Linked DNA regions of Homo sapiens: region 2 is linked to region 1. The links come from fine-mapping of genetic effects on gene expression. A gene starts in region 1. The other region holds a variant in brackets. All regions are shown on one strand. Distances are from middle to middle. Region 1 holds the start of CYP27C1 (cytochrome P450 family 27 subfamily C member 1). Region 2 has its middle 50 kb from the start of CYP27C1.

What was found. PIP is the estimated chance that this variant, and not a neighbour inherited with it, causes the effect. A credible set is the group of variants that fine-mapping cannot tell apart.
Region 2: its variant is the best candidate, but not a certain one, in a credible set for the expression of CYP27C1 in coronary artery (GTEx, PIP 0.86).

Annotation. Positions count from the first base shown.
Region 1 is chr2:127,217,871-127,223,241 of GRCh38, reverse strand. It overlaps CYP27C1 (cytochrome P450 family 27 subfamily C member 1), which reads left to right and starts at 2,943. Exons shown (of 9, transcript NM_001367502.1): 1 at 2,943-3,253. The coding sequence starts at 2,972.
Region 2 is chr2:127,168,053-127,173,423 of GRCh38, reverse strand. It overlaps the pseudogene NIFKP9. Among named protein-coding and RNA genes, the nearest start is that of CYP27C1, 50 kb to the left of the region's middle. RefSeq lists an enhancer at 1,927-2,478. The variant A/G (reference allele first, on the strand shown) is at 2,814.

The DNA of each region.
Region 1 (5,371 bases):
TGGCTTGTATTTGTGTACCTGTTTTATTCTTCAAATAGGTTATGGCCTCCTAAAGGCAGGATCAAAGTCTTACTGAGTACTTTGCAGCTATCATGCCTTATAATTAAGAGTTGCAAGGGCCGAGTGCAGTGGCTCAAGCCTGTAATCCCAGCACTTTGGGAGGCTGAGGCAGGCGGATCACGAGGTCAGGAGATCGAGACCATCCTGGCTAACACAGTGAAACCCTGTCTCTACTAAAAATACAAAAGATTAGCCGGGCGTGGTGGCGGGTGCCTGTAGTCACAGCTACTCCAGAGGCTGAGGCAGGAGAATGGCGTGAACCTGGGAGGCGGAGCTTGCAGTGAGCCAAGATTGCTCCACTGCACTCCTGCCTGGGCGACAGAGCCAGACTCCGTCTCAATAAATAAATAAATAAGAGTTGCTGAGTACTTATTAATCAAATTCTTTTCTTTTTTTACAGACAGGGTCTTGCTCTGTTGCCCAGGCTGGAGCACAGTGGCATGATAATGGCTCACTGAAGTCTTGACTTTCTGGGCTCAAGCAATCCTCCTGCCTCAGCCTCCTGAGTAGCTGGGACTATAGGCACACACCACCACACCCAGCTAATTTTTTTATTTTTATTTTTTGTAGTATCCAGGTCTTGCTATGTTGCCCAGGCTGGTCTTGAACTCCTGGGCTGAAGCAATCCTCCTGCTGTGGCCTCCAAAATTGTTGGGATTACAGGCGTGAGCCACCGCACCTGGTGTTATTAATCAAATTCTGTAAGTTGAGTAACTATAGCCTTCTTTGCGTCACTTACGTGATACTTCAATTATTCAAATGCAGTGTAGATTTTACAGAGTTGTAAAGGTATAAACTACTCATTAAAAATAAAATATTTAGCTGAGCCGGTGGCCTGCACCTGTAATGCCAGTTACTCAGGGGGAGGATCGCTTGAGCCCAGGAGTTCAAGGGCAGCCTGGGCAACATAGTGAGACCCAGTGTCTAAAAAATAAAATAAAATATTTTTATCTGGGCATGGTGGCATGTGCCCGTACTCCCAGCTCCTTGGGAGGCTGAGGTTGGAGATGGCTTGAGCCCAGAAGTTGGAAGGTGTAGTGCCCAGAAGTTGGAAGGTGTAGTGCCCAGTGATAGTGCCTGTGTATAGCCACTGCACTCCAGCCTGGGCAACACTGCCAGACCCCTCTCTGCTCTTTTTTTTTTTTTTTTTGACGGAGTCTCGCTCTGTCGCCCAGGCTGCAGTGCAGTGGCAAGATCTCGGCTCACTGCAAGCTCCACCTCCCGGGTTCACGCCATTCTCCTGCCTCAGCCTCCCGAGTAGCTGGGACTACAGGCGCCCACCACCACGCCAGGCTAATTTTTTTGTACTTTTAGTAGAGACGGGGTTTCACCGTGTTAGCCAGGATGGTCTCGATCTCCTGACCTCGTGATCCGCCTGCCTCGGCCTCCCAAAGTGCTGGGATTACAGGCGTGAGCCACCGCGCCCGGCCTGCTCTTTTTTGTTGTTGTTGTTGAGATGGAGTCTTGCTGTCACCCAGGCTGGAGTGCAATGGCGAGATCAGCTCACTGCAACCTCCACTTCCTGGGTTCAAACGATTCTCCTGCCTTAGCCTCCCGAGTAGCTGGGATTACAGGCGCGTGCCACCACGCCTGGCTAATTTTTTATATTTTTAGTAGAGATGGGGTTTCACCATGTTGGCCAGGCTGGTCTCGAACTCCTGAACTCAAGTAATCCGTCCACCTCGGCCTCTCAAAGTTCTGGGACTACAGGCCTGAACCTCCCTCTCTGCTCTTAAAAAATAAATGTTGGCCGGGCGCGGCAGCATTTTTTTTTTTTCAAGATTACAGCGTCAGTAATCCCAGCTACTCGGGAGGCTGAGGTAAGAGGATCGCTAGGACCCTGGGGGCGGAGGTTGCTGAGCCGAAATCGCGCCATTACACTCCAGCTTTGGTGACAGAGCGAGACTGTCTCAAAAAAAAAAAAAAAAAAAAAAAAAATGCTTAGTAACAATACGTTGTAAACGGAAAAAAATCTTATTTTTTACGTTTAGATGCATGAGTACCAACGGTATGAAATCTTCAAATAATGTAACTCAGCGAGCAGTTTAACTACTGACTAGGAAAAAGTTCCCTTCCTTGAAACCACATGGCACACCTCTGGCCTTTCCCGTGCTCCATCCCTCCCTGTGCGGCCACTTCTTTGTGCAGCCAGGCACTGGGCTCTGAGTCTAGGTTGGCGGACTCCTCTCCTCGCCTCGGCATGGAGGTGGCTTCTCTTCCCCAAGCCTTGTGCAACAGGACCCGTCCTTGTGAGGGACCAGATAAACGCCCCATGCTCAAAGTCGCTCACCCTCACCTAGTCCTCACTGCTTCCAATGGTGTGCGGAATAAAAGCGATGAGCCCGAGGAAAGCCATCGTAAACGACTGTGATTGTCTTTAAGAAAGCTTGTGGCAAGATAATAATGTGGTCATTTTACAACAGTAGGAACTACATGCAAAATCGTCTCACTTTTTTCCCCCCCTTTGAAAGTTGAGTTACAATAATTTAAGTTGAAACCATAAAGAACTGCTTCTAAAATGCAAAAAAGACCAAAGATTTCTTCAGTATACCTTCAGTAGTCATTTCGAAGGACGGTAATAATTTACAAGATCCCCGTAGACTTTTCTTTTTTTGGCCATGGTTGGAAGTGGGGTTGACCTTAAAACTTGGTGGTTTCAAGGAACGCTTAAGTGTGAATTAATATGATGTGAAGAAATAATAATAGCCTCATTCTCTTGCAGTCTAATCACAGCCTTTTCCCCAGCCCCAGGGGAGGGAGCCTTTAATAAGGGTCTGTGTAAACTGACGCCCCGGCGGCAGGAGTACGGAGAAGCACTGCTCTGACAAGTTAAGACGCAGGAAACAGCAACCCAAAGAGCAGCCCCCGAAACAAAGTTGCTCAGACAAACAAGCCGATGCAGACGAGCGCCATGGCCCTGCTGGCGCGGATCCTGAGAGCCGGGCTGCGGCCGGCGCCCGAGCGGGGTGGGCTCCTGGGCGGCGGGGCCCCGCGGCGGCCTCAACCCGCGGGCGCACGGCTCCCGGCGGGGGCGCGGGCCGAGGACAAAGGCGCCGGGCGGCCGGGGTCGCCGCCGGGAGGGGGCCGAGCCGAGGGTCCCCGGAGCCTCGCCGCCATGCCGGGGCCGAGGACCCTCGCCAACCTGGCGGAGTTCTTCTGCAGGGACGGCTTCAGCCGCATCCACGAGATCCAGGTAGCGCGCGCCGCCCCGGGAGGGAGCCAGCCCGGGCTGCTGCCCAGAAGGCTGACGGCGCGGGCGGGAGGGCGCCAGGGAGGGGCGCGGGGTTGGGGAGTCCCAGGGAGGGGCGGCGGGCAGGGATCCCCGGGCACTGGGCGCCGCGGTGGGTTGGGGGAGCTGGACTGGGGTTGTCCGGTTAAGGTTCGCAGGAAGGGGCGCTGGGGAGAGGACGCCGGAAAGGCGATCCGGGGTGGAGGAGGCAGGAACCGGGAGCGGGGCGGGGGCGTTGGGGAGGGGTCTTCGGGAAGCGGACCCCGGAGAGGGGCAGCAGGCAGAGGGAGCTGAGGAACGGGGCCAGAAAGGAACGGCTGGGAAGAGGCGGGGGAAATGGGTGTCTCGGGAGGTGGCGGCAGGGAGGGGTCCCCTGGAGGGGCCCCAGCCGGGACCCCTGGGGAGGAGGTAGCGGGGAGGGGAGTCAGGGATGGAGTTTCGGAGAGTGGTAGCCCGAGAGAGGCGGCGGGCAGGGTCTCCAGGGACTGGTCCCGGGGAGGGACCCAGGCAGGGATTGCCTGGTTGGGGAACCTGGGGAGGGGGCGCCGCGAAGGGAAACCAGGAATGGGACTGCGGGGAGGGCACCAGGGCTGAGGTCCCGGAGGAGGAGACTTGGGGAGGGGCAGCGGGCGCCTGGTGGACGCCGCCGGGGCCTGGGAGTGGAGAGCTGGCGGGACCCGCGGAGTTGGGGCTGAGGGGGGCTGCTGCCTGGGGCCGGCCCGAGGGGAGCGCTAGGTTCCCTAGCTCCTCTAGGCTCTGCGGAGCTCGGTGTCCTTAGGTGGCCGAGACCGTGTGTATTCATTTCTAGTCCTTTTTGTATTTTGTAATGGCGGGGGAAGAGGGGACGGAGGCTCGGAGGCTCGGGGTGCCGTAGGCTCTAAGCCGGAGTTGGGGGCGACACCTGGAGTTCGCGCCGGGACTGGAGGCAGGGACGTGGGAGGAACCCAGGGGTCCCAGCCACCCGCTAGGGCGTTGGGGCCGGCGAATTCCGCACGCTTCCCACTTGGAGCCTGAGTGCTGTCCTTCCCACGCCCACCTCCGTTGCGCCCTTCGTGGCAGGGGCACTGCACCCGAGCCGCGGCGGCGCCCTCCGATGCCTTCGCCCATCGTCCGCCTCCCCGGGTGCCCGGCCCAGCACGCACTGTTATTTCTGGTATGGGGGCTTTTGGTGTCTTCCGAGAACGCCCCCTTCTCCTCCCACCCAGGCCTGTCCTTCTGCCCAGAGTTCCGGTCTTTCGAGACCCTTCTCCATCGAAGCCTCTTCTAACTACCCACCTGGGCTTCAGTCATTCATTCGTTCCATCAGCCATTCAGTCAATGAACGTGAGGGAGAAGCCCCAACCCTCATTAATGGAAAAACGGGCGTGCGAGGAGCAATTTTAATTCGGCCGGGAATTAAAATTTAATTTAATTTTAATGCCAGGAAGTCCCAACCGTCCCTCCTCAAGTCCGCCACGCCAACCCTATACAGTTCCAAACCGCCACCCCCACCCCAATGCTTAGAGGGCTCAAAAATGATTTTCTTTGTAGGATCTGATAAGATATCAGGATGGCAACTTTCAAATACAGTAAAAAGTGTTTTGTTATTTGCTGTTGATGGGTTCAATACAGCCTGCTTTCTGAAGTGTAATTTAATTTTTCTTTTATCCGCCCCTACTGCCATCTGCTTTTATCCTCATACCTCACCCAGAGTTTGTTCCATGGGCACAGGTTTCTTTGAGACGGACCGTGTTAAAGCCTGTATCCAGTCAGGATGTGTGGCAGTTCAGATGGGTATTTTCCATTCACCCGCCCCTGCCGCCAGCCCTCACCCTGAGCTCAGCCCCTCCTGCCCACTGCTCAGACAGCTTCCTTCACCACACCCAGGGCCCTGGGGCACGGAGCAGAGAGTCACAACTGACTCACTTGCTGCCTTCTCACCAAGCGCACACAGGACCTGGAGAGTAAAAGAAATAAAGGAAAAAGTTCTTTCCCTTTACTCTCCAGGTGGCACTACCCCAACCCTCAAATATGGTACTTGTGGGGACTCTCACCTTCCTGCAGCCCCTCTGAGGACTCCCAATTTCGAACACATGGTTCTAG
Region 2 (5,371 bases), 50 kb after region 1:
GGCACATTCTCTGATATAACCTCGGTGCTGTTCTTGGTGCTATTATTCTTTTAAGAAAAGAATGGAAGGGAAAATATACTTGGCTTAGGAACGTGACAAATCCCCAGTGAGGCCTGGTTGCCAAGAGTGAGAACATGAGGAAGCCAGCTGGGAGAGTCTCCTTCCCTTGCTTTGAGGGAAATCCGAGGCCTAGCTTGTATTCACGTCATGACTTGAGCTTTACTTTGCTGTGCTTTGCAGGTGATTCATATGGGCAGGCATGATTTCATCTGAATGTGGAGGACCGTCTCTCAGGAACTCTAATTCTTCCCAGTGGAACTGTGAGAAACTCAGTCATTTGTCTTTTGCTTTTTTTTCCTCTTTTTACTTCACTGTCAATTTTCGAACCAGTATAGACGTTGAGGAAGTCTCATTCTTCTCAGACTGGCAGTCACTGCATACTGTGTAGTTACATCTTGCTGGTCATCAAAAAAATGCAAATTCATACGGGTGAAGAGATAGCTTAGGACCACATTAGTAAGTGTCCACAAGTTAGTAAATGCATGTTTGGCGGATGGTGAGGCCTGGTCCTTTGAAAGGAATGGCAAGCTGCGTGGGCACCCTTCGTGTGCAGGAGTGCACGTTTAGGTCATACTAGTTTTCAAGAACAATTCCAAAGTGTGGCCTGGGACCCCCAACACTACATTGCAACCAGTGAGCTACAACTCTCCCATCATCCCTCCAAACAACAAAGAGTTGATGAAGCAGTGTATACTAAAGATGGAAAACTGCAATATGTTCCTTTTTTAAAGCTATTTTCCTTCTGAATAATTTTTTTTTCTTTGAGACAGAGTCTGGCTCTGTCGTCCAGGCTGGAGTGCAGTGGCGTGATCATGGTTCACTGCAGCCTCAACTTCCCGGGCTCAAGCCATCCTCTCACCTCAGACTCCCGAGTAGTTCGGACTCCAGGTGTGCGCCACCATGCCTGGCTCACTTTTTCTATTGTTTGTAGAGATGAGTCTCACTGTATTGCCCAGGCTAGCCTTGAACTCCTAGACTCAAGCTATCTTCCCCCTTTGGCCTCCCAAAGTGCTGGGATTACAGACATGAACCACTATGCTGGGCTGTAATTTTTTTTTTTAAGCAATTGGTTCTTCACTTTTACTTTTGTATACATATTTTTTTTGTTATGTCTTTCTACTGCTGGATACGCAGGTGTCTCTGAAAATGGAACATTCCAGCTTTTAAAAACTTCATCATATGCTTTTTCATATGGCAGAAACCGACCTGTATTTTGAAAAGATAAAAAGTTTTGAGGCTGGGCACAGTGGCTCACGCCTGTAATCCCAGCACTTTGGGAGGCCGAGGCGGGTGGATCACCTGAGGTCAGGAGTTCAAGGCCAGCCTCACCAATATGGAGAAACCCCATCTCTACTAAAAATACAAAAATTAGCCAGGCATGGTGGCTCATGCATGTAATCCCAGCTACTCGGGAGGCTGAGGCAGGAGAATTGCTTGAACCCAAGAGGCGGAGGTTGCAGTGAGCTGAGGTAGTGCCATTGCACTCTAGCCTGGGCAACAAGAGCGAAACTCCATTTCCAAAAAAAAAAAAAAAAAAAAAAAAAAAGGTTTCAACCAAATGGTAGGGGAGGGATTTTAACGTTCACTTTAGAATCTCCTGGTGCCATTTCCCACAGCATAATCAAGATGCCACAGTTGATCTCATGTCAGAGTGATAGTGTAGCAGGACGAGCTGCAGACAAAACCCCTCAGACACCGAATTAAAGAAGGAAGGGCTTTATTCGGCCGGGAGCATAGGCAAGACTCACGTCTCAAAAACTGAGCTCCCCAAGTGAGCAATTCCTGTCCCTCTTAAGGGCTTACAACTCTAAGGGGGTCCACGTGAGAGGGTCGTGATTGATTGAACAAGCAGGGGGTACGTGACTGAGGGCTGCATACACAGGTAAGAATGGAACAGAACAGGACAGGGATTTTCACAGTGCCTTTCCATACAACGTCTGTAATCTATAGATAACATAACTGATTAGGTCAGGGGTCGATCTTTAACTACCAGGCCCAGGGTGTGGCGCAGGGCTGTCTGCCTGTGGATTTCATTTCTGCCTTTTAGTTTTTACTTCTTCTTTCTTTGGAGGCAGAAATTGGGCATAAGACAATATGAGGGGTGGTCTCCTCCCTTATTCGATGAGCCAGTTCTGCCCTAGTGGAGTTCGTCAGTGCTGTTAGACAGGAGCAACAATCCCCAACTCTACATTCAGAGCCCTTTCAGCTATTTTTCTCAAGTCCAACACAGCACAGCACCGACCTGGTACGTGCGGTCGACAATTTTCAGGGCACCTACCCAGCTCATTTCCTCTTGGCAAGAGCCATGCTTTTAATGTGAGAATGAACCCATGACCTCAGCTAGGCAGTCAGCTTCTCTCACAGCTATGGGAAGTGGACAGAGAGATGCCACCTGGGCAGCCTCGCCAGCTGTTTGGGCAGATGCCTGTGAACTTGGGTACCTAAGATGGCCACAGGCCGCCATGGGCACAGGGAGGCCAGAAACTTCGCTTTGCCTCCCAAGGGCAGCAGGATCTGGACAGGGATGCTGTCTGCACCTTATGGACTGCAGGGTAGGGGGCTGCACTGGCTCCTTTCTGCAGGATGAACTACTCATCTGGTGCTGTCACTCCTCCACTCCCCCTGGCTTATCTCACGTGGAAGAGCTGCAGCCATTGCCATTTAGATGGATTTTGCAATGCGATTCCTGACCTTTGATTCTATCCCCAGTGCCCTCAGGATAAATTCTGAACTCGCTGACTTAGAAGGCCTTC[A/G]GTAACCTGACCTGAAGCCTCTTCCTGCTCCCTCATCTCTTGGTACTTTTCCTCACATTACCTCACAGCCAAATGGTTAGGCACCTCTGGTTAGGCATTCACTGTCCCTCAGCCAGGAATGGTCTGTCTTCACTCCTGTCCCCTTCACCTGGCTCACTCCTGTTTAGTCTCCAGGTTTTAATGTCAATGCTACTTCCTCAGAGAAGCCTTTCACAGCCCATAAGGATGGGTTAGCTGCTCCTCCCATGGGACCCCAAGGTAACTTGTCCAGCTCCATTTAGGGTAAAAACAGCTCTCAGGCTGGGAGATTTTAAAATTCCAATTAGAATCTGCCTGCAGCATACACTGAAATCCTTGCACCATTCTGTAAGAGTCATCCCAGAGATGAAGTGGCATGTCCAAGCAGCTAGGCAAGCCGCCCTTCCCACCACAGTCACCCACCAGCAGCAGGCACCCAGGCAACCCCGCAGTAAGACAGGAGCACTTACACTCCAAGAGTCTCTCACCACAAAGGCGGTTGTTCATTGTTTCAGCAACTATGCTGCAAACACCCTCAGACTCAAACTCCACAAATGCATAGCCTATGTGAGTTGCAGTCCGCAACAGAAAATCCACAAGAAATAGACCAATCATCAGACTCCTAAATGCCGTTCATTTAAATTGTGTACATTTTTAAGCAGGTAGTATCATTAGCCTAATTATCAAATGACACTATGTCATCTTGTAATTCCAGTTCCAAAATCATATAGCTCAGAGCCTGCTATGGGAAAAGAAAATATCTTAATTTGAACATGCAGCTGAAGTTCACATATTCCTGGAATTTTGGTTAAATGTAATCAATACGTGATGACTATGGCTGGGATTGATTCAACAGCAACACCCCATTGTGGAGAGGAAATATGATAGTGCCCGGTTCTTTACCCCTTATCCACTTATTTGATTTCACTGACAGCTGTATTATTCATAATACTCCGGAGATAGTATAATGCTCTGTGAAGGACGAAGATAATATTCTCATATTGTTTATATGTGAGAGTTGAGATGAAACAAAAACAAATCCTCAGTATCTCCCGGCAAATCCATGAAACACTGCTCATTCTCATGCTCCAGCATGACCGGACACCTTCCCAGCGGGAGGCACGGGGACTGGGCCAGCACTCTTTGAAATGCACATCTCGAATTCGCCACTCGGCACCCTAGCACGAAGTGGGTTCTGTCACCTATCTTTGTAACAAGTATGTGGGTTTTGGAGTTCAAAGGCTCAGGTTTGGATTCTCGACTCTGATAAGTAAGGGTAAGTAACACTTAAGCATCATGAGCCTCAGTTTTCCATTCTGTAAAATGGGGATGCTAACCACTCTCAGGGTTGCTGTGAAGATATGAGATTGTGCACAAGAGCTCAACACAATGTGTGTCATGGACTCCATAAATGTTACCAGTGATTGGTGGTAATAACCAGAAAGGTTTTCTTTTTTTTTTTTCTTTTTTTTTGAGACTGATTCTCTCTCTGTCGCCCAGGCTGGAGCGCAGTGGCGCGATCTTGGCTCACTGCAAGCTCTGCCTCCCAGGTTCACGCCATTCTCCTGCCTCAACCTCCCCAGTAGCTGGGACTACAGGCGCCCGCCACCACACTTGGCTAATTTTTCATATTTTTAGTAGAGATGGGGTTTCACTGTGTTAGCCAGGATGGTCTCCATCTCCTGACCTCGTGATCTGCCCGCCTCGGCCTCCCAAAGTGCTGGGATTACAGGCATGAGCCACCGTGCCTGGCCCAGAAAGGTTTTCTAACCTTGCATTAGACAACATAGCTTTGGCTATGGATCAAAATTGGTGATGTGACTGGAGATAAGGAACCACCTGAAAGCCGCGTGGCTTAACAGGGTGGGAGTCAGGAGGCTCACTGCTAGCGCCAGCTGTGTCACTCATCAGCAGGTTGGCCACGCCCACCACTGGGTCTCAGGTTGGTTGTCCACAACAGAAGCATTCTAGTAAAAATTATTTTTTAATTATTTATTTATTTATTTGTTTTGAGACGGCATCTTGCTCTGTTGCCCAGGCTGGAGTGCAGTGGCCCGGTCTCGGCTCACTGCAGCCTCCACCTCCCGGGTTCAAGCAATTCTCCTGCCTCAGCCTCCCGAGTAGCTGTGATTACAGACACCCGCCACCATGCCTGGCTAATTTTTTGTATTGCTAGTAGAAATGGGGTTTCACCATGTTGGCCAGGCTGGTCTTGAACTCCTGACTTTGTGATCCACCTGCCTCAGCCTCCCACAGTGTTGGGATTACAGGCGTGACCCACCATGCCTAGCCACTCATTCTGGTAAAAATTAAACTGCCTGTAGCTGGGTGTGGTGGTGAGTGACTGGGGTCCTAGCTACTGAGGAGGCTGAGGTGGGAGGATTGCTGAATCCAGGAGTTTGAGACTGCAGTGAGCTAGGATCGCACCATTGCACTGCAGCCTGGGCAACAGAGGGAGACCCTGTCTTTTAAAGACATATTAGGCCAGGTGCAGTGGCTCATGCCTGTAATCCCAGCACTTTGGGAGGCCGAGGTGGGTG